Regions from separate parts of the Homo sapiens genome. Here all the other regions are linked to region 1. The links come from fine-mapping of genetic effects on gene expression. A gene starts in region 1. Each other region holds a variant in brackets. All regions are shown on one strand. Distances are from middle to middle.

Region 1 (8,168 bases):
CAGCAGCCGCTGTCGCTCGGGAGCCCCCCTCGGGAGCAGGTCCACATTGGCCTTCGTGATGCGGGAGAAGAAACGGGTGCAGGCCTGGGGCCCCGAGAACGCATCTGGGCTGTGAAGAGAGGGTGCTGGGGACAGGCCGCACTGATCACACCCGTCCCCACCCTGAGAGGCAGCCCGGCCGGCCTCCACATCTCTGCTGTGGCCTGGGATCCGAGGCAAGGGGCAGGGGGTTGGGGGCTGAGGGCTGGCGGCAAAAGCCGGGGGGGTGGGTTCAGGGGGCAGGGCCTACTTGAGGAATAGCAGCAGGTCCAATGGGAGGGCGTCCAGGTCCTCGGGGGGCTCAGAGAGCCGGTGAGCCAGACAGCGCAGCTGCAGGGGCAGGGAGTCCAGCACAGAGCGTTTCGAGCCGCCACTCACATGGTGGGCCAGGGTCGCCTGGCCAGTCTGCCCACCACAACACACCCCTGCCCTGGCCACGAGAATCTGTGGAAGTGGATCTCTGGCCGCCTGCAGCGCTGCCCTGGGGGATGGGGGCTCCCGTGCCTGGCTCCGCTCCCCTTCCCCAGATCTCACCCACTCCCCCGAAAAAGATTCACCCTTGGGGCAGAGCCTGGAGGGCTGCCCACGGCGCTCCAGGAGGGGGCCCAGCACACAGCGTCATATCAGACTTGCTCCTGGGGAGCCAGCCCCTGACGTGGACAGGCACCCCAGTGGTCAGCTTGGGTGGCCAGAGGAACTCTGGGAAGAACTGGCCGGGGAGAGATGGCAGCAGGGACAGAGGGGACCGTGGTGGCAAGGTGGGCACTGCAGAGCTGCCTGTGAATTCCTCAGCCCCAGCTGTGCCCACCTGCCTCAGCCCAACTGAGACTGACCTGCTCTGTTGAGAGCTTGACATTCTTCTGTGCCAAGGCCACAGCCAGCTCCCGGACACGCTCCGTGCTCAGGCCGGACACCTCCGCACACGGGAAGCCAAGGAGTTGGCGAGGGGAGAGGCTGCAGGAAGGGTCGGGCTGGGCACCCACGATCGCCCCTCCCCTGCAATGTCCACCCAGTGCTCCCCAAGCCCCACAGCCCCACCTCTCCCCAAAGGACCCTGGTGCTCCCTGCAGACCTCCCCCCAAGACCAGGTGACGCCCTCAAGGGCCGGGAGTTGCCATCACCTGAGGGGTGTCAGTCCCTCCCGCAGTCCTGAGCCCAGTCAGATCTGAGGTGGAGCAGAGGAGGAAGGGGGAGGGGATGCTGGGGGATGGGGTGCCCTGCCCACCCTCAGTCCCGAGGGCCCCTCGAGCCTCACCCTTGAGGACTGTGAGGACCCCAGACCCACCTGGAAATGTTAGGTGGGTTGGCCAGGACTCCGTCCAGGGGCGCAGCCTCCTGGGGACACAGGGCCTGCTGAACATGGCTCAGACCAGCTCTCTGGAGCAGGAGTTCCCAGGTCCCGCTACCCCTGGGCCAGGTACTCCCCGAGTTCAGCTACTTCCCAGGCCTGGCTGTGTCTCAGACCCATGGGCTTGGCTGCTTCTCATCCATCTACTTCCCAGACCCAGCTGCAATTTCAGCTCTGCCGCTCCCTGGACCTGGCTGCTCCCAGGCCAGTCACATGCAGGTCCAGGTGCCCCTTTGCAAGCAAGGACCGTGGAAACTGGCAAGCACCGTGGATACGTGACAGAGAGAACACAGCATGGCACCCCCACCTGGGACCTGAAGACCCTCCCCTGTTTCCCCAGAGGGGACCTTACCTGCCCTGTCTCTCCAGCCAGGGTCCTCGAGGGCTGCACCCATCCTAAAGGGGCAGAGGGGACAGCTTGGGGGAGGGGGCGGGCCTCTGGGCTGTGCCCTGACCCAGGGGAGGAAGGAGGCAGAGCCTGGCCGCCCCCACAGCCAGCCCTGTGCACACCCCAAAGAGAAGCCAGTGGCTCAGGCCCATGTACCCCGTGACATCACAGTCCCCCAGGCACAGGGGTCGGGACTCCACCAGGGAGCCCGGCCTTCCACATCTTTCCCTGAGACCCGGCTGCTTGGCCGGTCAGACCACCCATCCCACAGACATCCCCACTGTGTCCTGAGCCCCATCACTCCCTGGCTGGATCTCCAGCTCCAGTCACCTCTGGGGGCAGAGACTGCTGCTGAGACGTGGCCACCACAGGCACTCCAGGGAGAAGGCAGGGGCAGGCAAAGCCTTGCTGGGGGCCTGGCCCCCAAGGCCCCTGGGCCGTCCCCACCTCACCAGCAGCCCCATCAAGTACGCACCGAGGCTGAAGAGCAGGAACAGGAGGCTGCCGAGGGCGGGGGTCCCACAGGACCCCAACAGGGGTCGAGCCGTTGGCAAGGCCATGGTCTGTGTCTGTGGAGGGCAGTGACTCAGGATGGGACCCCCTGCTCCCACCCCACGCCTCTGTCCTGGGCCAGCCTGGGGCCACATGGGCCCAGGAGGGGCTCCCAGAGCAAACTTCTGTGGTACCTGCAGCTTGTGTCCGCACCCTGGCCCTGCCCTCCAGCCACTGAGCCCTCTGTCCCCTGGACTGGCTCCTCCTGTCCAGGGGAGGGGCTGGGTCTGAGATCCCGGTCCCCAGCCCAGACAGCCCAGGAGTCAGTTGGCGCCCACCCCTCTCCCAGAAGGGCAGGGCAGTGTGAGCAGAGCTTAGATCAAGCAACCGGGGCCGCCGCCCACTTGGGCTGGCCTGAGTCTCCCCACTCTCGCACAGGAGGACGAGCAGCCCCGTCGCCTGGATGTGGCTCCCTTCCCTCTCCCCTGCCCTCAGCTGCAGGTGCCTGGGCTTTGTGAACACCCCAGGCTCTGCCAGGCAGACAACACCCTTGAGGCAGGAGGGGCACTGCGGGCACAGAGGCCACCGCCCCTTCCCACCCAGCAGCGTCTTTTTGGGCCACTTGGCCTCTCTGAGCCCATTTTCAGGTGCAGTCCAGGTGGGGCGGGGCTGGGCCAGTGAGCAGCCTGGGGAGCCCCTTGTACTCTCTAGGGTGGGGCCTGTGGGCCACTGTGGGGTGGGGAAGTGGGTGGGGAGACCCTCCCTGAACAAGAATTGTCCTCCTGGGGTAGGGGTGGGGCTCGCAGAAGAGGGAACTGGCTTCTACACTCACCCCTTTCAGGGAGGCCACCATGGCGGAGTAGAATAGAGCTGCCTCCTGAAAACCTTGGCCCAGGCCCGGTGGGTCCACCCACAGCTCAGAAATGGGGGTCACACGCTCATGCTCAGCAGCCCCATCCACAGGCAGAGCCTGCCTGGTCGGCCCGGCCACTGGGGAATGTCGCGGGGAGGCACACAGCCTCCGGGTGACAGACTCTACTCCCCCAGGCCCCAGAGGAAGTGGGGAGGCCCCTGAGGCTCTGAACACCTTGAGAAGGTGGAAGAAAACAGACCCCCCCCACAGCCAGAAAATGGGCAGTGAGTGGGACCCCCAGCCCTTGGGGTGCGTGAAGCCAGGAGGGAAACGTGGCCATCGGATCACAGGGGACCTGGGCACTCCCCACCCCAGCTCCATGTGACCCAAGGACCTCAGCACCTGGGATGGGGGCTCCCCGAGAGCCCGGCCCTTCCTGCTCTGAGGGGCCTCTGCAGGCCATGGGGGGCCCTGGAATCTGCATCCTTTACACCTGCAGGAGAGCTGGGCTGGGGCCGTGGAGGCACCTGCACTGCCTTAGGACTGCCGCTTCCAAACAAATGGGTCTGCGTGTGCCCTGCGGGGTGAAATCTGCGTCCAGCTGAAGCCTGACCATCGCTCTGGTGCTGGAAGCCCGGCCTGGGGCGGCCCCAGTTCTCCAGATGGAAGGTGCAGATTCCATCCACACCACAACAGGAAGAGCTCAAAGGTTGTTACTTACAGATCCCAGGGAGGGAGGCACCGTGGGTCCACCGGTAGCTCTCTGTCCGCGCGTCACAGCAGACGGGAGTGGCCGGCCAGGCAGAAAGAGGAGTGCGTGGCGCTGGCAGCGCCCATGAGGAACAGGACAGCCCCTTTCAGATCGCGGGCCAATGCCCACACGTGGGCCTCTAAAGGGCGATGTGAAAGGGGAAGCCCAGCCCCCAGGCCTCTGAGGCCTTCTGCGCAGTTGGGTAGGGAGCTTTACCCCTAACGCCCGGGCAGCCCCCAGCCCTCCAGGTCCCGAGTGGCCCCTCCCAGGTCTCAGTGGGCCCTGCCCAGGGTAACTCTGATGTGCAGGGTGATTGGCCACACCTGAGCCTCCTCTGCCTCGGTTTCCTCAATTGGGAAGTGGGGGTGGAGAGCCTGGCAGCCTCCCGGGCCGTCAAAGGGAACAAATGACGGCTTTGCCCGGGGCAGCAGGGAGTGGTGGCGCCTCACGCCCCAGGAATGTGTGGGTGGAGACCCCGCACAGGAGCCTTGGACAGGCAGCGGGCCAGGCCTGGGGGAGGAGGGATGCCCAGGAAGGCAAAGCTGCCCTCGGTGGGCGAGGGTGGGAGCCCGGGCCCAGGTTTCACGGCTGCCCTGGGTGGGTGTGGGGCATGTGTAGGAGCCCGGGCCCAGGTTTCATGGCTTCCCTGGGTGGGTGTGGGGCGTGGGTGGGAGCCTGGGCCCAGGTTTCACGGGATCCCACTCTGATTCTCAGGTGCTGAAACCCAGGGAGCACTGGCCCCCCCAGTCGCAGGTCAGCAGGCTCTGGATGGTGGCCACGCAGCCCAGACAGGACTCCCGGGAGCACAAGCCTGACCCCCAGTGCAGTGTGGGCCTCGCAAGGCTGTGAGCCGTCCGTCTCAGGGCTGTGGGAGCACACAGGTCAGGGAGGCAGGACGGGGCCCAGCTCCAGGCACACGCACACCCCTTTCTCGCAGGGTCGACTGGAACAGAGCTGCCCCCGGGCGCTCTCTGGCCTGGCGAAGTGGGAGCTGTCTTCCCTACGCATCTGGGCTGGCTGCCTGCTGCTGATGGAAGAGCTGCTCCTCCTGACCTGGGGCCACAGAAGCCCCCTCCCTGCCCCTGAAACCCCTCCCAGCATGTCGTGAGCTCTTATCCCCAGTACGGAATCTGCCTCCGCTATGAACACCTGCAAAGGTTTGTGTGCTGAACGGAGGTGTGCGCGGCGGTCATCTCTGGTCTCTCCACAGAGTGGGTTTTCTATCGTGACTCGCGGTGGAATCGGACCTTCACGCACACAGAATTCAGCAAGGCTGCCAGGTGTAAGCGTCAACTTACAAATGTCAAGAAGGGATTAAGGGCCTTTTAAAAACTCCCTTCCGCAGAGAACAACTGAAAAATTCCAGACACTCTTGTAGCAAACCAGTTACCCAAGGGCTCTGGGGAGGGGACAGAAGGCAGCCGGCTTGGGCGGGAACTCACAGGTAAAGGGAGAGGCCAGCTCCGAGTGGCGTTCCCTTTGTGTCCACACAGCTTTGCTCTGAAGGAGCCGCAGGTTGGCTGCGGGGCTGTGAAGTGGCCCAGGCTGCCACGGACACCCACAACTTTCCCGGCCAAAGGCCAAAGGAAACCAAGGAAGGAGCCCAGAATACTCAGGGCCCAGAGCTCGAGGAGAGGCCTGAGCCGGAGGAGCCAAGGAGGCGCCCACGTGCCCAGCTGAGCCCTGAACTGAAGGAGCCGAGGAGGGTCCAGGAAGAGCTCGGAGGGCCCCGTAGACACGGCTGAGCCCTGAACAGGAGCCTCAGAGGGGCCCATGTGCCCGGCTAAGCTCTGAACCAGCCGACTGCAAGCTGCGGACAATGATGAAAACGCGCTGTGGCCAGCCTGGGCTCACCCTTCAGCCAGCACCGTGGGAGGCCGATGCGGGAGGGTCCGTTGAGGCCAGAAGTTCAAGACCAGCCTGGGCAACGTAGTGACACCTCATCTCTATAAAGAATCTTTAAATGAGGCCCTGTGTGGTGGCGCACGCCTGTCATCCCAGCACTTTGGTAGGCCGAGGTGGGCGGATCACCTGAGGTCAGGAGTTCGAGACCAGCCTGGCCAACATGGAGGAACCCCGTTTCTACTAAAAATATGAAAATTAACTGGGCGTGGTGGCACATGCCTGTAATCCTAGTTACTCAGGAGGCTGAGGCAGAAGAATCACTTGAACCCAGGAGGTAGGGGTTGCAGTGAGTCGAGATCACGCCACTGCACTCCAGCCTGGGCAACAGAGCAAGACCCTGTCTCAAAAAAAAAAAAAAAAAAAAAAAAAATGCCGGGCGCAGTGACTCACGCCTGTAATCCCAGCACTTTTGGAGGCCGAGGCAGGCAGATCATGAGGTCAGGAGATCGAGACCATCTTGGCTAACACGGTGAAACCCCGTCTCTACTAAAAATACAAAAAATTAGCCGGGCGTGGTGGCGGGCGCCTGTAGTCCCAGCTACTCGGGAGGCTGAGGCAGGAGAATGGCGTGAACCCGGGAGGCAGAGCTTACAGTGAGCCGAGATGGCACCACTGCACTCCAGCCTGGGCAACAGAGCGAGACTCCATCTCAAAAAAAAAAAAAAAAAAAAAAAAGCCCAGGCGTGGTGGCTCACGCCTGTAATCCCAGCACTTTGGGAGGCCGAGGTGGATCATGAGGTCAAGAGATCAAGACCATCCTGGCCAACATGATGAAACCCCGTCTCTACTGAAAAAAAAAAGAAAGAAAGAAAGAAGAAAAATAAGAATATCTGTGTGATTTTTTTTTTTTCTGAGACGGAGTCTTGCTCTGTCGCCCAGGCTGGAGTGCAGTGGCGCGATCTCCGCTCACTGCAACCTCCGCCTCCCAGGTTCATGCCATTCTCCTGCCTCGGCCTCCTGAGTAGCTGGAACTACAAGCGCCCGCCACCATGCCTGGCTTTTTTTTTTAAGTAGAGATGGAGTTTCACCGTGTTAGCTGGGATGGTCTCGATCTCCTGACCTCGTGATCCGCCCACCTCGGCCTCCCAAAGTGCTGGGATTACAGGCATGAGCCACCATGCCCGGCCATATCTATGTGTCTATGTGATTGAAAGAACGTAGATTCCTACCTCATATTATATGCAAAATTTACTCAAAGCCAACCATAGGCCTGAGTATAAAGGCTGAAACTATAAAACCATTAGAAGGAAATTCAAGAGGAAGTGTTTGTGGGCTTGGAACAGGCAAAGACCTGTTAGATGGAAGAAAGAAGGCAGAAACCATGACTGACACTGCTGCTCTTTGAATGATGCCGTGAAGAAAATAAAGAGCCAAGCCACAGAATAAGAGAAATATTTGCATGACATATACCCAGAATTGACAAGGAACATTTGCAGTTCAATGATAAGACAGACAATCCCGTAAAACCCAGGCCATATGTGCTGCAACGCGGCTGAGCCTGGAAACACGGACACGTCGTACGAGTCCCTTTAGATGAAACGTCCAGAGTGGGTCAATTTAGAGAGACAGGAAGTAGATGAGTGGTTTCGTAAGACCCGCGGGAGGGAGACCAGTCAGGAGGACTGACTTCTAAGGGGTATGGAGTTTCTTTCCTTTTCTTTTTTGAGATGAGTCTCCCTCTGTCGCTCAGGATGGAGTGCAGTGGCTCGATCTCGGCTCACTGCAAGCTCCGCCTCCCAGGTTCAAGCGATTCTTCTGCCTCAGCCACCGGAGTAGCTGGGATTACAGGCGCCCGCCACCACGCCCGGCTAATTTTTGTATTTTTAGTAGAGACGGGGTTTCACCATGTTGGCCAGGCTGGTCTCAAACTCCTGACCTCAAGTGATCAGCCCGCCTTGGCCTCCCAAAGTGCTGGGATTACAGGCGTGTGCCACCACGCCCAGCTAATTTTTGTATTTTTAGTAGAGACGGGGTTTCACCATGTTGATCAGACTGGTCTTGAACTCCTGACCTCAGGCGATCCGCCCACCTTGACCTCCCAATGCTAGGATTTCAGGCTGCAGCCACCACACTGGGCCCGAACGGTACTTCCAATGGGTAAATGGGTGAGCTGTATAGTGTGGATTATCTCTCAGTAAAGCTGTTATTTAAAAATGGGCAAAAGATTTAAACAGACACTGCACACACACACAAAAAGATACAAAAGCCAGGTGTGATGGTGCATGCCTGTAGTCCCAGCACTTTAGGCTGAGGTGGGAGGATCACTTGACCCAGGAGTTTGAGGCTGCAGCGAGCTATGACCACGCCACTGCACGCCAACCTGGGTGACATAATGGGACCCCATCTCTGCAAAAAATTTAAAAACTAGCCAGGCATGGTGACGCAGGCCTGA
Region 2 (8,168 bases), 25 kb before region 1:
GGGTCAGCACGCAGCACCAGATAAGCCCGGACGCCCTCCGTGGATGTCACGTGGACGTAGTCCTCCAAGATGGGGGGCCGCCTCAGGACGGGATTGCGGGCAGCTGGTGAGGCCCGTGTGAGACCCACGTCGGCAGCAGCTTCTGAGACTCTGGAGAGAGACCGGGGCTCAGTGGCAGAAACTCAAGCGTGGGGTCACCCTTGGATATGGGTGTCCGAGACTGCTCTCAGCCATGGAACCCTCCCCACCCCCCAGGCCTCATCCAGGGCACGGGATGGGCTCCATCTGAGTCCCACTGGACAGATGGGATGGGACGCCCATGTCCAAGCCACACACCCGTGGCCCCAAAGCTCTGCGAGGTCCTCAGGGCTCGGCGGCGGGGTGATGTCCGTCGGCGAGGAGTCGGGAGGGGGCGGCTCCTCCATCTCCTCCGATCTGAAGTTCAGCCTCTTGACCACCTGCAGCCTAGGCCGTTTGATCCTGGGGGCTGGGGGAGACACATGCAGGGAACCAGAGGCCTCCTCAGCCTCGCGCCCACTCCGGAGGCCCTGGGGCAATGCCGCCAACCTACCGTGGGGCAGGGACCCGGCCGGCTGCAGGTCGGCGTCCACCTGCCTCTTCCTGGCGCCGCCCTGGCTGCTGCCCACAGATGCGGCTGGGGCGGGACTGGAGGCCGCGTCCCCTCTGGCAAGGGCCTCCTCGAACGTCCGCGGGGGTCGGCCCGCGGTGAACAGGGGGACCCCGGAGGGCGACGGAGTCGACGCCCCTGCTGGGAGAGGAGATTGTCAGCGGCCGCCCCGAGACAGCAGATCCCGCCAGCGGCGACGTGGAGGCCCCTTCGGCCCCCGGCACGCCCTCCCCGAGGTCGCCACTGTCCCGGCTTTCGCAGCTCCTCCCCAACGGCCGGGGGCCGCGCCCCACCTTCCAGCTCTGCCAGCACCTCCAGCTCGGCCGCGAACTGGTTGTGGAAATCATCCTCGACGCCGCACAGCTCCTGCTCGTAGTCCTCCATACCGTCCGCGAGCCCGAGCTCCCGCTCCGAACCTCCCGCGCCGCCGCCGCCGTCGCGCACTGCCCGCCCCGAGCGTGCCGGGCGCCGCCAATCAGCAGCCGGCGTGCCCGGCGGCGCGCGCCATTGGTTGGCGTGGCGGAGGCGGGGCTGCGCGAGGGGTGGGCGGGGCGAGTTCCTGCTCCGCAGCCCCCGCGTCCTGTCCTGGGGAGCTCGCCATTGGCCGCCGCAGCCGCCCTTCCGCGGCGGGGGCGGGCCGGGGGCGGGCCGGGGGGGGGGGCGGGGCTGCGCGCGCAGCGGTGCAGGGCGGAAGCGCTGCCAGGCGTCCGGAGCGGAGCTTCCAGGGTCTCTGGGTCGCCAGCGCGCGGGCGCGCGGCTGGAGCCGGCGCCGGGCACGGCATCGGGGGCCTGGACTGCACGGCCCGGCAGCAGGTTGGTCTTGGCGTGGGCGTGGGCGCGGGAGGGGCTCGGAGCCAGGGTCGGCCTGCCCACCGGGCCTGTGCGGGGCGCGGGTCTGCGCGGACTGCGGGGAGCGAGGAGGCCCCAGCCCTAACCCGCGCTGCGGGCAGACCTGGCTGCCGGGCCTGGTAGTGCTGCAGCCCCTCCCCGCCCCCACCGTCGGGCAGAGGCATTCACGTGCATCCCCTGGAGGGGAGGGTCTGTGGGGAGGATCTGTGGGGCAGGTTTGGAACGGGCTCTTTCTCCAGGCTTAGGTCAGGCAGGGCCCTTCAGGTCAGCCCGGAGCAGGCTGACTCCTTGACTCCCCAGCTGACGCCCTGGGGACTGATCTCGGGGACTGAGGATGCAGGTGCACAGTAGGGCTGCGGACCCGGCTCGGTGGCTTCGCACCGGAGCCCGGGTGGGGCGGTGCGGGTACCTCTGTATGCTGGGCTGGGGGCGCACCACGTGCTCACAGCACACGCACCCACGCGTGGCTCGGCAGGCCGGCCATGGAGCCAGGCAGCGTGGAGAACCTGTCCATCGTGTACCGGAGCCGCGACTTCCTGGTGGTCAACAAGCACTGGGACGTTCGCATTGACAGCAAGGCGTGGCGGGAGACTCTGACCCTGCAGAAGCAGCTGCGGTACCGCTTTCCCGAGCTGGCCGACCCTGACACCTGCTACGGGTTCAGGTAGGGGGGGCGGCCGGAGCCCCACGGTGGCGTCTGTGGAGGAAAGTGGCTCAGACTCTGGACTCTGTCCCACTCCAGGTTCTGCCACCAGCTGGATTTCTCCACCAGCGGGGCGCTGTGCGTGGCCCTAAACAAGGCAGCCGCCGGCAGCGCGTACAGGTGCTTCAAGGAGCGGCGCGTGACCAAGGCTTACCTGGCATTGGTAAGACCTGGTCAGTCCTGGGGTGGGGCGTGGGGACTCAGGATTCCCACCCCACTTGGGCAGCCCTGGCTCAGAGCCTCCCACCACGCTCTACGTGGTTGCTTGGTGTTAGGTGGGCTCCCCGGCAGCACTGGGCTGCCCCGTGAACTGCGTGCGATTCTCCCTCTCCTGCAGCTGCGGGGGCACATCCAGGAGAGCCGGGTAACCATCAGCCATGCCATTGGCAGGAACAGCACGGAGGGCCGGGCCCACACCATGTGCATCGAGGGCTCGCAGGGTGTGGCAGGCAGGGACCCACCGGGCGGGCATCGTGGGTTGGGGTGGGCCTGGGCAGGCAGGGACCCACCGGGCGGGCATCGTGCGTTGGGGTGGGCCTGGGCCCCGGGTCAGTCCCACTAACCTCACACCTGCCTTCTGCGCCCCAGGTTGTGAGAACCCAAAGCCAAGCCTCACAGATCTCGTGGTTCTGGAACACGGGCTGTACGCAGGCGATCCTGTCTCCAAAGTGCTGCTGAAGCCGCTCACGGGTGTGTCTGGGGTGGGCGGTGTCCTGGTGGTGACAGAAGGGAAACTGAGGCACAGGGCCACGAAGCTTATGTTGGGCCACCCTGAGCATCAGGGCAGAGCTGGCAACAAGCACTCCTGCGTTCTTAACTCCACGCCCTGCAGCCTCTCAGCTTCTCACCTGACACAGGGTCCCTGCTGGCTCCTGACTGATTCCTTGGGGGTCTGGCTGGCCTAGATTCTCCAGGACCGAGCACCACCCTGGCCCTGTCCTCACCAGTGGTGACCTGAACACAATCTTCTGTCCTAAATACTGTCATCCTCACTCATGGCAGGGGACAGGGAGAGTTCCACCCCAAGAGGCTGCTTCAAGACTGCAGCGGGGTCATGACGGGAGGTGGGTCCTGGTCAGGGAGATAGGTGTGGATCGGCCCCGCTCCCAGCTTGATCCGGCACCGCCCTCATCCCGCAGGCCGGACACACCAGCTGCGCGTGCACTGCAGTGCCCTGGGCCACCCCGTGGTGGGCGACCTGACCTACGGAGAAGTCTCGGGCCGGGAGGACCGGCCGTTCAGAATGATGCTGCACGCTTTCTACCTGCGCATCCCCACGGACACCGAGTGTGTGGAGGTCTGCACGCCTGACCCCTTCCTGCCCTCCCTGGATGCCTGCTGGAGCCCCCACACACTGCTGCAGTCGCTGGACCAGCTCGTGCAGGCCTTACGGGCCACCCCCGACCCTGACCCCGAGGATAGGGGCCCCAGGCCAGGCAGCCCCTCCGCACTCCTGCCTGGGCCCGGCCGGCCTCCTCCACCCCCAACCAAGCCCCCTGAGACTGAGGCACAGCGGGGCCCCTGCCTGCAGTGGCTGTCGGAGTGGACGCTGGAACCGGACAGCTGAGAGCCGTGGGGCTGGGGCAGGGGGTGTCAGCTGCACAGCGGGACTCTAGGGAGATGGGCGAGCGAGCGTCTGCTCACTGGCTCTGGGGCCTCGAGGTGCCAGGCAGCATCAGGCCCACTGGGTTGCCCCGGCCAGGCCTGCGAGGAAGGGCTGAGGTGGGGCCGGCAGGGGGCGCCAGGCAGCCGTGATCACAGGTGACGACCGCACCGCGGCCGTGGGACTGATGCGGGATCCCGAGGGCCTTCCTGCCCACATGCCCCGGGAGAAACCGAGGCCCCTCCCTCCTCCTGGAACAGCTTCCGGCTCTCAAGCGTCACCCCAGGGGCGTCAGTTTTACGGACTCAAGGTCACCTCAGGAAGAGGCAGGGCCAGGTTTTGGGATAGGCTTTGCCTCCAGGATGGGCTGCTCCTGGGCCTGGTGAGCTACTGCCCCCAACCTACCCTCTAGAGGGGCTGGGAAGGGCCGTTCTGGGCTCACCTGGCCTGGGAGACCCATCTGGTCCCTGCGTCCTCTGCCCCTCACTGCTCTGTGCAGATCCTGTCGCCCTCAGCTGCCTCCTCCCGAGACCTAATGGTCCCTGCTGGGCTCGAGTCTGCAGGCCCGGCTGCGTGTGCCTTGGCCTCACTGTACCAGTGGTTCCCTCTCTGCCC[G/A]GATTCTGAGCTCAGTGTGGTGTTTGGTGCACAGGGGTTGGTCAGGGGCCATGGCCAAGGCCCTGCCACGCACGCCCATCCCTCAGATCCACTGTGAGCACCAACCTGCTGCAGTCTCTTGGGCCCCTGCTGGCAGCTCTGCCACGTCACCGCCTGCCTGGCTCCCACACAGCCATGCATTGTCACTCTGCCTCCGGGACCCCAGCTTGGGAGCTGTGGGTCTGCCAGGTCCCACCTCCTCTGTCCCCCATGCCACAACCTGGGCTCCTGGCTACAGCAGGGCTCCAGGGACTCCAAATAAATGTTCAGTGACTGGCTCCAAGGATGACCGTGAACGTGTCCGAAGTGGGGCTTCCAAGGGACAGGTCTGGCCACCCAGACCTTTCCTAGCTCTCTTCCCTGCCCTGAGGCCCCAGCAGGACCCAGGACAGACGCAGTGGTCCAGGCTCCTATCGGCCTCTCCTGCAGACAGCAAGCACCGTGCAGCTTTGGCCTGGGCACAGACCCTGGGCCGGCCCCGGACAACCCCCAGCCCCCACAACCAGAGCCATGGGAATACCCAGCTGGTCCAGCCAGGGATCTTCGTAGAGCCCAAGTCTCAGAGCTCTGTGGAAGGGGCATCTCATGGGCCAGCACTTGGTCTCAGGTCCGCCTGGCCCCTGCCTGCCACTGTCCAGCTCCGGGGCCAGCCCTGAAACCCTGGTTACGACCCCAGCGGTGACAGCAGCAGGGCCTGGACCAGAGGCAGCTGCCACCGTGCCCTCAGCCGAGATGCGGGTTCCAGACCCGGAGTCCCCACCGGGGCCCAGACCGGAGGCAGCTGCCACCGTGTCCTCAGCCGAGACGCGGGTTCCAGACCCGGAGTCCCCACCGGGGCCCGACTGGAGGCAGCTGCCACCGTGCCCTCAGCCGAGACGTGGGTTCCAGCCCCAGAGTCCCTGAGGTGAGGCCACAGGCCCTGGACTCACTGCTGCTGCTCCCATGACTCAGTTTCCTCATCTGTAAAGGAAGGGGCTGGTGCAGATCCGAAGGGACCGCATAACCCTCAAGTAGCACCAGTCGGCCACCCCAACAGAGTGCGGCAGCAAAGCCCTCCCGGCCAGCACGCCCATCACTCTCGAGGCTCCTCCCTGGCCAGCCCCGGGACGTGTCCACCCTCGGGCACCTGGCCCCGGCCTCCCCTCCCCCAGGGCTGGCTTATCTCCAGGCCTCCTCCTGGTCCTTGTCTGAATCAGCCCAAGTCAGGGCCAGGCACGCCTCCCCTCTCTGGCTGGGACAGTCTCCCCACCCTGCCCCACGGGGCCCCACCCCTCTAGACTGGGGGCTGCCGACCTCACTGCCCCAACAGCAGCTGTTGGAGCCGCTGTGTCCAGCTGGGCTGGCCCAGCTGACAGCCGGCCAAGGGGCCTTCAAGGCCTGACCTGAGCCGGACCCTCATCAACAAGCCAGGCCTGAGCGCCGTCCCTCATGGTGCCCGTGCCTCGTTGTCAGCCTAGAGCTCTCAAAGGGGCACCTGGGTTCCTGTGGGCTTGTGCAGGCCTGGGGAGCAGTCACCTACCAGTTCCCCTGCCGTCAGCCTCCAGAAGACCCAGATCGGGGGTCAAGTCTCAGCTTGGCCATGGAGCTGGCTTGTTGGGCACCCATAGCATAGCTGTGGTGCAGGGGGTGGTGGTTCCACAGCTGAACCTGAGCTGCAGGTCCTGCCAAGCAGGGGCTGAGTCTCTCCCAAGATGAGAGCTGGGGTAGGTGGGCCAGGCCAGGGCTCAGCCTGGGTCACCCAGCACCCTGTCCCAGTGAGGGGAGAAGCCTGGCAGGTGGGCTGGGAAGTCCCTCCTGTGTCTTCTCCTGCCCTGGCCTGCCTGGTGGAGCCCGACAGTGCATACTTGGGTGCTCTTGCCTGCCCACCTCTGAGCTGCGGCACCCACGGAATGGCCGCAGCCGTCACCATTCCTGGCCCCCGCATTGGGTACTCGTCTGCCTGATGTCCCCGCAGAGGCACACATGGTGGATCTGTGTCCGTGCTCCCGGGCACACAGACCAGGAGGCCCGAGAGGCACCTGTGCACACGCAGGCACCAGCAAACACGGCAGACTCAGGTGCAGGCGCACGACATGACCCCTGGGGCACAGACGCTGCAGAGCAGGGCCCCAGTGGGTGGGGAGGGGTGTGAGCTGGGCAGCTGCCAGCCGTGAGCTCAGCCTTTGCTCTAGGGGAAGGGAGTAGGTGCCCATTGTGCCTGAGGTCCCCAGGGGCTGACGCGGTGCATCGCCTGGCACAGCCCGGGCCTCCCCCACAGGACTGCCTGGCGGGCGTCACCGTGGGAGTGGGACTGGGCGGGGCGAGGCAGTCTCATGCCGCCTGCCAGGCCAGGCATGGAGGTGAGCGGGGACCCCGGCATCCCCGCCCTGCACCGCCTCTGCACCCGGGCGCTCAGTGGTAGCGGCTGACGCACTTGGCGGGCTGGGATTGCGTCTGGATCACCTGGTCCACAACTCCCTGCCAGGAGCAGCCACCCCACAGCCTGGGCAGCACCTCCCTCCACCACACCCAGGGTTTCTGCTCAGGTGAGAAACGCTGGCGGGAGCCACCACCAGCCCACCCGCAGGGCCGGTCCCGGACCTGTGGCTGGGCCTGAACCTCTGCATTTGCCTCTGCATGGGGCAGCCTCCCTGTCTCCCTCCTGGGCCACAGTCAGGAGGCCCAGAGGTGCCCAAAAGCCATCAGGCTGGCTCCAGGAGGAGGCAGTGACCCACAGCAGTACCGGACTCCTCTAGGGTCCCTGGCCTTGCAGCTTCCATTTCCAGCATGGTTGAGGCTACCCCAGCTGCCACTGGGGGCTGGATGTCAGCGAAAGAGCCCAACAGCTGGGGCTCAAAGAGGGAAAGGGAGCTGCCAGGGCTGCCGGGTGTGGGGATGAAGCCAGGGCTGCACGAGGCTGCCTGGGGGACTCGCTGTTTGTTGGAAATCTGTTCATTGGAGACCCAGCAGCCCATGGGTCCCCTAGGCCCCGACCTGCAATAAGAAAGGCCCCAGGGTTTCACCCGGCTCCCGCTCCCTGCTCCTGCCTTTTACTGTTTATGGGATCCTTTCCCCTCGAAGGTGGGAGAGGCGCAGCTCTGGCCCCGCTGCCCTGGGTGAACCTAGACTGCACCCTCCCTCTCCACACCCCAGGGGGTGGGAGGCAGTGCGGGGCCAACCTGTGTGTCTCACCTGTGTCTCGCCTCTGTCACGCCTCTCCAGCTAGTCCTGGACCCACTGCCCTTGGCCCCAGCACCTTCCTGCCCTGGGACGTCTCAGCCAGGATGACCAGTGCACGCCGCCGCACAGACGTGGGCCCCAGAGTGGGTGAGACGAGACCTCCATGCAGAAAGGGGGCCTCCAGAGTGCCAGGCCCTCATGGCAAAGCCATCCCGTAGACATGGGAGTGCCCAGGGCCCTGGCCACCCCATTCTCCTGAGCGAGGGTCTGTCCCAAGCCAAGGAAGGAGAAGGTGGGCCCTGCCCAGCAGCAGCAGGACGGGGGTCGGGCTGCCAGGGCACTGTGAGCCCAGCCCTCCCCAGCAGGCATGGGGGTCCTGGGAGGGTGAGGCAGGGCAGGCAAGTTTGGCTAGAGGGGGCCACTCCTGGCCCAGGCAGCTGGACATGGCTTCTGGGGAAACGGTGTGGGGGTGAGTGGAGACAGCGTTCTCTCGGGCAGTCCGGCCACAGGCAGGGCTGGGCTCTGAGGCCAGGGTTGCCCAATGCCTCACCCTCCCTGAGAGGGGTGGGCCG
Region 3 (8,168 bases), 41 kb before region 1:
GGTCATGTCAAACATCAAGTGATTGATCTGTGGGGACGCAGGCGCCTTCCTCAGAGCCCCTCCCTCCCCTGCTTCTGCCCCAGCCAGCCTTGTGCATCTGCAGATACCGAGGCTGCTCAGGGGCGCTCTGCTGTCCACTGAGTGCGAGGAGTCTCAGGCGCTGCAGGGACCCGGGTGCTGCCACACGGGTGGACAGCCCATGGTGGCCGGTTGGAGGCCTCTAGCACAGACCCTGCACACCTGGAGGCTTCTGCTGGCAAAGCCCTGGGACCTAAGACCAGATGCCCAGGGCTATGGCCCACTTGGGATGACACACAGGGTCCCCAGATGTGTGCATCTACCCCAGTGACCCCCTTTTTGGGATGCTTGTGTCTGTTCTGGGGCTGCTCTGGGCCCCAGGGGTTGGGGGTGGGCGGTGTCCCCTTGTGAGAAGGGGCCCGCATGGCAGGAGTTCCCTGTGGGCGCAGGCCAGGCCCTGGAACGGTCTGTACCTCGCACACTGCATTTGCGAGCGGCTGCGCTGTTCCTGAGCTGGTTGGGAGCTCAGAAATGCAGGCGGGTGTCTTCCTGCCCCATGGGGTGGTAGAGATAGCCAGGAAGTGAGTGCCGGCCGCCCAGGGCCCCAGGCTTATTTCCCGAGACGGAGCTTGGCCACCTGTGGTCTGGTCTCCACGTAGCAGGATGCACGTTCGAGGCCTGTGACCCATGGGGTGGTAAGTGGGGTGTGCAGCTGCCCCACCCGTGTTGGGGTGACCTGGCTGTCCCCAGCAGCCACCTCTGCACGGGGGCTTCTGGTCAGTTCGGGCCATCCTAGCATCTGGCTAGGCTCTGCCAAACCCATTTGCCAATCAGATTTGGAAGACTGGACATTCTGTGGTTTCCCTAGCCCCGGAAGCAGCAGCAGGGCCATCCCCTGCACTGGGGGTCCCAGGATCCCTGATGGGCTGTGGCGTGACCCATCCAGGGTCTTAGAGGCCAACCTGGATTCACAGCATGTCCTGTGGTTAGAGGTACAGGCGGGTCCTTGGGCCCTGATGCACTTACAGTGGTGGCCACCCAGCCCGGGATGTTTGAATGAAGCCGTGGGGACAGCCAGAGGCCAGAACACACCGTCTTAACTTCTAGGTGTCCTTAGGCAAAATCACGGGACCTTTGTCATCCCTTTTTTTTTTTGAGACAAGGTCTCCCTGTTGTGAGCTGTGGCATGATCACAGTTCACTGCAGCCTCCACCTTCCAGGCTCAAGGGATCCTCTAGCCTCAGCTTCCCAAAGTGCTGGAATGACAGGTGTGAGCCACTGCACCCAGCCTAGTCATCCCAAAGCAAGTGTCCGTCTGTGTGGGCAGGGACTCTCCCAAAGCCAGAAGCCCTGTCAGGCTGCTGCACGGCTCTGGCCACCACCCTGCGGATCACGGGCTCCTAGGAAAGCCGCCCCAGGGACCACGACACACCGGAGGGTGGCCTGGGGCAGAAGGCGCGACTCACTCTCCCTTCCCTTCCCCCACAGACCTTGGAAAGGTCTCGCCTCAAGGCCTCCCACCACCCTCGGCTGAGCAAATGTGTCTCTCTTTTGGAAAATCTGCGACTTCTGAGCTGGTACTCTTGGAAGAGCGTAATTTGGTGGAGCCGGCAGTGGGGGCCTCTGAACCCAGCAGGCTGTTATTTTGCCCGTCGGTTCCCCTTAAACACACTCAAGTTCCGAATGGGGGCAGCACCCCATCCCCGGGAGCCCAGCTGGCATTGCTCCTGGTGACACACTGACCTCCAGTCCTCAGGCCAGGAGCTAGGGCGTCCGAGCCTGTGGGGATCCACCGCCCAGCCTGCTTCTGTCCTTCCAGGACCTCCTGCCTCAGGCCATGCTTCTGGTTAGCAAAGACATACCTAGCTTTTCAGGAGACGGGCGTCTCTTAAGTAGGAAACCTCCGGCGACTGTAACCACGCACTGACCTGCAGCTGTTCAGAGTAAACCGAGCTAAGGCAGGCACGCTACCCCGAGGCTGCAGCGCGAGCGTGGCTACGGCCAAGCCCCCAGCAGGCCCCTGACTACACAATGGAGGTCAGGTGTGGATGACAGCCACGCACCCGGGACTCCCTTGAAGTTGTTTTTTTTTTTTATTATACTTTAAGTTTTAGGGTACATGTGCACAACGTGCAGCTTTGTTACATATGTATACATGTGCCATGTTGGTGTGCTGCACCCATTTACTCGTCTTTTAACATCAGGTATATCCCCTAATGCTATCCCTCCCCCCTCCCCCCACCCCATCCCTTGAAGTTTTCCGTTGTGTTTTCTGTGCTTGGGTTTAAGAGCTTCAATTGTTTTTGAAAATCACTTTGAAACTTTCACAGATGACAGAAAAGTCGTTGCCGTGAGCTCCAGTTAACTAGGCGGAGTGAGTTTCTTTGGTGAGGAGCTGCCTTCGTTATTTCCCCAGGCCCCACGCTTGCAGTTTTGTTTGCAGGGACTGAGGGAAGTCAGCGTGTCCTCCACACACATTCACCCACCACCCCCGGGCTGCTTGGGTCCTGCAGGCCACAGGGTCCCCCTAGGACAGCCAGAGCCCTCTGCAGAGCCTAGGGCACAGGCGGGTGGAGGATGGGACTGGTCCTTGGTCCCCAGCTCAGCACTTTATCCCTCTGTTCCCCGGAGAGTTGACTGGTGTCGGGGGCTGTCTCCCCCACCCATTCGGAGTTGAGGCCGCAGCGAGAGGCCAGTCCCGGGAGACCCTGCTGCAGCTTCCCGCTAGGAAGGGATCAGAGCCCCCTATGCCAGTGTGGTACCAAGCCCTAAAGTCAGCGTGAAGGGCCTCCGGCCTCCTGTGCTTCCCCCACGGTCTTGGTTGGCTGTAAATGGGAGGTCTCGATGCTCCTGCCCCAAGCCAGGCCCAGCGGCACAGCCCCACGCCTGGTGGGTCAAGAGCCCCTCGGGCCAGGGACAGCTATTTCTAGGGCAGCGGAAAGAGCCCTGCGTGTTCTCAGCCAGCGGCCCAATTAGTGGCCTAATTTCAGAAAGGAGCCCCTGGCCTCGGGAGGCTGTGGTCACTCCGTTGGGGGACTGGCTGCCATTCCTCCCAATGAGAATCGCTGAAGCCGGGTCCAGCTGTAGGGCCGGGGGAGGCAGATTCCAGACCCGAGGCTGACTCCAGCTCAAGGCGTCAGCGCCCGGATGTGTTTGGGGGTTTCCGAGTGCAGCCTTGGTAGGAAGGTCGAAGTCAGTCTTCAAGACCCCCGTCTTACTGAGGATGGGACCTCACAGCCCCTCACACGGGAGCAGAGGTTACTGCACCCACCCAGGTCAGCACAGGACCTGCTTCTGATTCTGGGGGTCCACACGACACCGAGGCTGACTGGTGCCCCCCCAGCGACCAGAAACGCCACAGAAGTGGGGTGAGAGACGGGACCCACATCACATGCCTGGGACATGGGCCTGCAGCAGACCCAAAACCCTCAGCTTGCCCTGGCCCTGCCCCCACTTCCCTCAACCTCCTCCTGCCCTTGGCCTTGGGGGTCACCCAGACCCTGCTCAGGTAGGCAGGCCGGGTCCACCATGCAGGTACACACAGCCACTTCTCTGCTGAGATGCTGAGGACTGGCAGGACCTGCCCGGACCACAGGGCAGTGCTCACTCCAGGACGTGACCCCACGGCCCGTCTCACCTGTCCTGGTGGCCCACACCACACTCCAACCTGTGTCCTGATTCACTGGGGGCACTGGCCGTGTTGGACAGAGCTCAGGCACCCTCAGGGACCTTACTGGGTCCAGTGAATTGACCAAAAGCCAGAACCTGGAGCCTTGGCGACCCCATTAGGAGACCTCCTAGGTCCTTCCAGATGAGCAGATGCAAAGGCCGCTTGGGGTCCTGAGAGTGGCCACAGAACCCCCAGCTCTCACAACTCAGCTGCGGACCTCAGGGTGTTCCCCCGCCTGGCCCTGGCTCCAAGCCACCTGCTGTCCCAGGGAACGTGGGGGACATGCCCTGGGGTCCCCCCCGCCTTGCCTGCATCCTGGGGTGGCACACACCCCTCCCCTAACAGCCATTCCACTCTCTGGCGCCCAAAGTGGTGCCCCCAGCCACAGGGAGAGCCCTCAGCAGCCCAGAAACTAAGGTGCATCCGAAGTCACAGCACCAGGGGGCA[C/T]AGGCAGGGCAGGGCGGGCACTGGGATCAGGGAGACGTCTAGCCCCCACCATGCCAAGAGGGGCAACCATCTGCCCTGAGGAGGAGGCCTCGTGCCCTGGGCTTTAAGCTGCCCCACCCCACCCCCAAATCCATAATAAAAATAATCCCTTCCCTAATGTGCCCCAGTTCCAGAGGCGCCTCTGATCCAGCCGACACACATCAGGGCGGGAGGTGCAGGTGGCCCCGATTCACGGAGTCACACTGGCAGGGAGTCCTGCTGAGTGACTTCAGGGACCTGAGCGCCTGAGAGGGACAGGGCCCACCTCTCCCCGACAACCCCTGCAGAGGTCTGGGCCACCCCAGGCAGGCCGGGCGGTTCCCTGTGACACTGGGGAAGGCAGAGTGACCTGCTCACAGGCCCCTGGCCCTGCCAGCACCCACCGAGGGCCTGGCCCACGCTTCCCCGGGGGTGGCCCAGCTTCTGCAGGGACTGTTTGGGGAGCTTGGCCCTGTGCCCCCAGAGGCTGCTGTTGCTGCCTGGGCGCCCCCACCTAGGATGCAGCCTGGTATGTACGTCACCTGCTGGTACATAGGGCACAGCTCCCACAGGAGCCCAAGGGGTACACCCAAGGGCAGGGTGGGAGGAGACACGGGGAAACGTGTCAGAGGAAAAGGGGCCAGTCTCAGCTCTGCAGGCTGACAGGTGCGGAGCCCCAAAGGGAAGCCCTCTCCCCAGAGCCTTGAGGTCACACAACCCGAGCCCAAGTGCTGCAGCTGGGGGCACCTCTCCCGAGGCAGCGTGCCCCAGAGCACCCACAGTGGACCGGTGTTGGGGACGCCTCAGGCCGCCACTCTCAGCTCAGATCAGACTGAAAAGCACGGCACTCTCCTGCCCTCGGGAGCTGCCCCGTGCCGGCCACTGGTCTGGGAACAGGGGATCGGGCTGGAGCAGGGAGCTCCACAGAGCCCCGGGGCCCCTAGCAGTAAGAGGCTCACATCCCAGGGTGAGCCACATGGCCCACACAGGATGCCTCTGTCAGGGGGGCACAGCTGAGTGTCACCTGAACCCTGCAGGCTGCAGAGGCTTCAGAGGGCAAAGGGTCCCAGCCCCATCCCCACTCCTCCCGGCTGGCCCAGGACACTGGAGGGGGAACCCACCCCCTCAAGTGGAAGGAGACCTCTCCACCAGGGCCCAAGCTGGCCCCTCAGGGAAAATGGACCAGCCCCACACTGGCCCCTGGCTGCATGTCCATCCGCTGGGTGAGCCCAGGGGAGGGGGCAGCACAGGCTATCTCTGGGGTCAGCCCAGCCCTGAGGAGGGTGTGGGGGCGGCGCCAGGGCCCAGGTGGCGGGAGGGGCGGGGCACAGCCAGGGCTCTGCCTGGCGGACTCCCGGAACATCACTTGGCCCTCGCTCTCACTCGCGGTCGCCTGGCCGTTGTCATTGTCCCTCCGCTGTCACCTTTTCAAGGTAGGTCCGATGAACAGGCGCCCGGGGCTAGGGAGGGCCCGGAGGCCCCTCGACTCTCAGCTGGCCCAGGTCAGTCCCCTGGGCTCACCCTAACTCCCGGGGCGAGGGCAGCTGCCCCGCAGGCAGCAAAACCCAACCCGAGCCGGTGCTGCAGGCAGGGAGGCGGCTCTCGCGGTGCGGGGGAGCTGTGTCCATCTGAGCGCCGTGCGCCGCCTGCAGTGCCCACCGAGTCCCGTGGCTGGGGGCGTCCACGGGGTGCACGGGGTGGGTGGCCAGGCTTGGCGGCAGCTGCGCGAAGGTAGGGCTGGGCAGCAAGGACTGGGCTGTGGGCGGGGCGCCAACACCCCGGGCCTGGGAGGACCCGCACGCAGCTAGTCCTGCGCCCACGGGGCTGAGTGTAGGGTCTCCGAGAAAAGGCCTGCACCGGGGATGGGGGCGGGTAGGGGTGCTGGAACTCCAGAGTCTCCGGGAGGGAATCCTCTGCATGACCCTGATCACTCCCCCAGAAACCTGCCCCCGCTCGCTCCCCGGCCTCCCACCCCACTACGGGCAGACCCTCTGCTGGCTGCTGGGAGTCTGCCCAATTCACCACCGGGACCCCACCAGCCTCAGGCCCTGGGCCCCTCCCTAGGTGGCCGGTGCAGCTGCACGACCAAAGGATGGGGAGACTGTTGGGCCAGGAGCCCCCTTCACAGCCAGAGGCAGGCTCCCCGAAACTTGACGCCAACCCCCACCCACCCTCCCAAGGTTCAGCCCTGTCTCCCAACCTTGGGGACGGGGGCCAGAGTTGGGACGGAGTGAGGGACTCCCTGGGCCCCTGGAGTGGGTAGGGGGAGAGGCAGGGGGCAACCCACCCCCACTTGCCTCGAACTTGTGGCAGTTCTGAGGGGTGTCAACCTGTGGCTTTCCCAGGCTGGCCACAAGCAGAAAGCACGCAGGTAACGTGTGTGGTTCCCAGACACACTGGGGACCCAGGGGCCACCCACAGCCCATATCCCAGACTCGGGTAGTATAGCCTGAGCCCCCAAGATCCTGAGCACACACCCCACCTGCCAGAGAAGCAAACTGCAGCAGAACATTCCTGTCCAGGAGTCCTGGCTCTGGACTGGGCTCTGCCATGCAAAGCAAAGGGGCACACAGCGGGGCGGGGCAGGGGCCACCTCCTGAGGACCTCGCCCCACACCTCACACCGTGGTCTGGGTCAGCCTGCGTGGGCCTCAGTGGGAGGGTAGGAGCTGGGGGCCTGCCGTGCTGAGCACCCTTTCTCCTGCCTGCAAGGGATCTTCGTAAGGTGTGGGGGCCTATGGGGGAGTAGCTGAGGATGTAAAGTTTCTTGCAGTTAATTAGTCCCAGTGCAGGAGGCGGGAGCTGGGGCCTTGTGGGAACTCGCTCTGTGCCCTGCACCCTAGCAACGCCTAGGGGACTGGCCCAGGCAGTGGTGTGGACTCTCCCCGCTTCATCCTGCGGGGTTCAGCTCAGGCCTGCGGGGAGCAGCGGGGGTGGGGACTACAGGCTGGTGGCCTCGGCCCTGTGGCTTCCTCCTGTGCCCTCCAGCCCCAGGCTGGCTGCTTCAGAAGCCCCTGACCCCATGGAGGAGTGGGACGTGCCACAGATGAAGAAAGAGGTGGAGAGCCTCAAGTACCAGCTGGCCTTCCAGCGGGAGATGGCGTCCAAGACCATCCCCGAGTGAGTGCCCCACCTGCCTGATTTGCCTCTCATTTGTCTGCCCTGCGCTGGCTGCTCATTTCCATAGCCACGACCACCGCCGCCGACAGGCAGGTGCAGCAGGAGGCCCTCGGGGGTCAGGTGCCACCACTCACCTGCCACCCGCCCACCCGCAGGCTGCTGAAGTGGATCGAGGACGGGATCCCCAAGGACCCCTTCCTGAACCCCGACCTGATGAAGAACAACCCATGGGTGGAAAAGGGCAAATGCACCATCCTGTGAGCCCCGCACCCGGCCCCTCTCACACCATCCTGTGAGACCACGCCCGGCCCCACTCCCACCATCTTGTAAGACTGTGCCCAGCCCCACTCACTCCATCCTGTGAGTCCCACTCCCAGCCCCACTCCCACCATCCTGTGAGCCCATGCCCGGCCCCACTCACACCAACCTGTGAGCCCCACTCCCGGCCCCACTCACTCCATCTTGTAAGACTATGCCCAGCCCCATTCACTCCATCCTGTGAGTCCCACTCCCAGCCCCACTCCCACCATCCTGTGAGCCCCACTTCCAGCCCCACTCCCACCATCCTGTGAGCCCCACTCCCAGCCCCACTCCCACCATCCTGTGAGCCCCACTCCCGGCCCCACTCACTCCATCCTGTGAGCCCCACTCCCAGCCCCACTCACACCAACCTGTGAGCCCCACTCCCGGCCCCACTCACAACATCTTGTAAGACTGTGCCCGGCCCCATTCACTCCATCCTGTGAGACCACGCCCGGCCCCACTCACTCTATCCTGTGAGACCACGCCTGGCCCCACTCCCACCATCCTGTGAGCCCCACTCCTGGCCCCACTCACACCATCCTATGAGCCCACGCCCGGCCCCACTCCCACCATCCTGTGAACCCCACTCCACT

Which allele goes with the higher level. Positions count from the first base shown, and alleles are read on the strand shown. Sizes are in standard deviations (SD) of each study's normalised expression. Not every link is listed here.
For the expression in iPS cells of the gene that starts at base 4,282 in region 1, allele A in region 2 goes with a higher level than allele G (moderate effect, 0.42 SD a copy in iPSCORE).

Evidence for each region. PIP is the estimated chance that this variant, and not a neighbour inherited with it, causes the effect.
Region 2: its variant is fine-mapped to the expression of MSLN in iPS cells (iPSCORE, PIP 0.95).
Region 3: its variant is fine-mapped to the expression of MSLN in T cells (TOPMed, PIP 0.90).

What each region holds. Positions count from the first base shown.
Region 1 is chr16:756,848-765,015 of GRCh38, reverse strand. It overlaps MSLN (mesothelin), which reads right to left and starts at 4,282. Exons shown (of 18, transcript NM_005823.6): 1 at 4,195-4,282; 2 at 3,842-3,943; 3 at 2,251-2,344; 4 at 1,740-1,783; 5 at 1,325-1,374; 6 at 873-993; 7 at 290-369; 8 at 1-109. The coding sequence starts at 2,335. RefSeq lists enhancers at 4,326-4,344, 4,510-5,035 and promoters at 4,326-4,344, 3,866-4,346, 3,852-5,701.
Region 2 is chr16:781,529-789,696 of GRCh38, reverse strand. It overlaps RPUSD1 (RNA pseudouridine synthase domain containing 1), which reads left to right and starts at 1,316. Exons shown (of 6, transcript NM_058192.3): 1 at 1,316-1,441; 2 at 1,953-2,141; 3 at 2,220-2,343; 4 at 2,518-2,620; 5 at 2,769-2,870; 6 at 3,320-4,723. The coding sequence starts at 1,960. The coding sequence ends at 3,747. CHTF18 (chromosome transmission fidelity factor 18) reads right to left here and starts at 1,077. Exons shown (of 22, transcript NM_022092.3): 1 at 922-1,077; 2 at 572-766; 3 at 337-487; 4 at 1-150. The coding sequence starts at 1,012. It also overlaps the pseudogene MSLNL. RefSeq lists silencers at 784-843, 1,024-1,483, 1,504-1,593 and an enhancer at 2,043-2,850. The variant G/A (reference allele first, on the strand shown) is at 4,399.
Region 3 is chr16:798,084-806,251 of GRCh38, reverse strand. GNG13 (G protein subunit gamma 13) reads left to right here and starts at 5,518. Exons shown (of 3, transcript NM_016541.3): 1 at 5,518-5,586; 2 at 7,141-7,272; 3 at 7,428-8,168. The coding sequence starts at 7,175. The coding sequence ends at 7,533. RefSeq lists enhancers at 1,730-2,273, 2,818-3,362, 4,180-4,729, 4,730-5,279, 5,280-5,829. The variant C/T (reference allele first, on the strand shown) is at 4,136.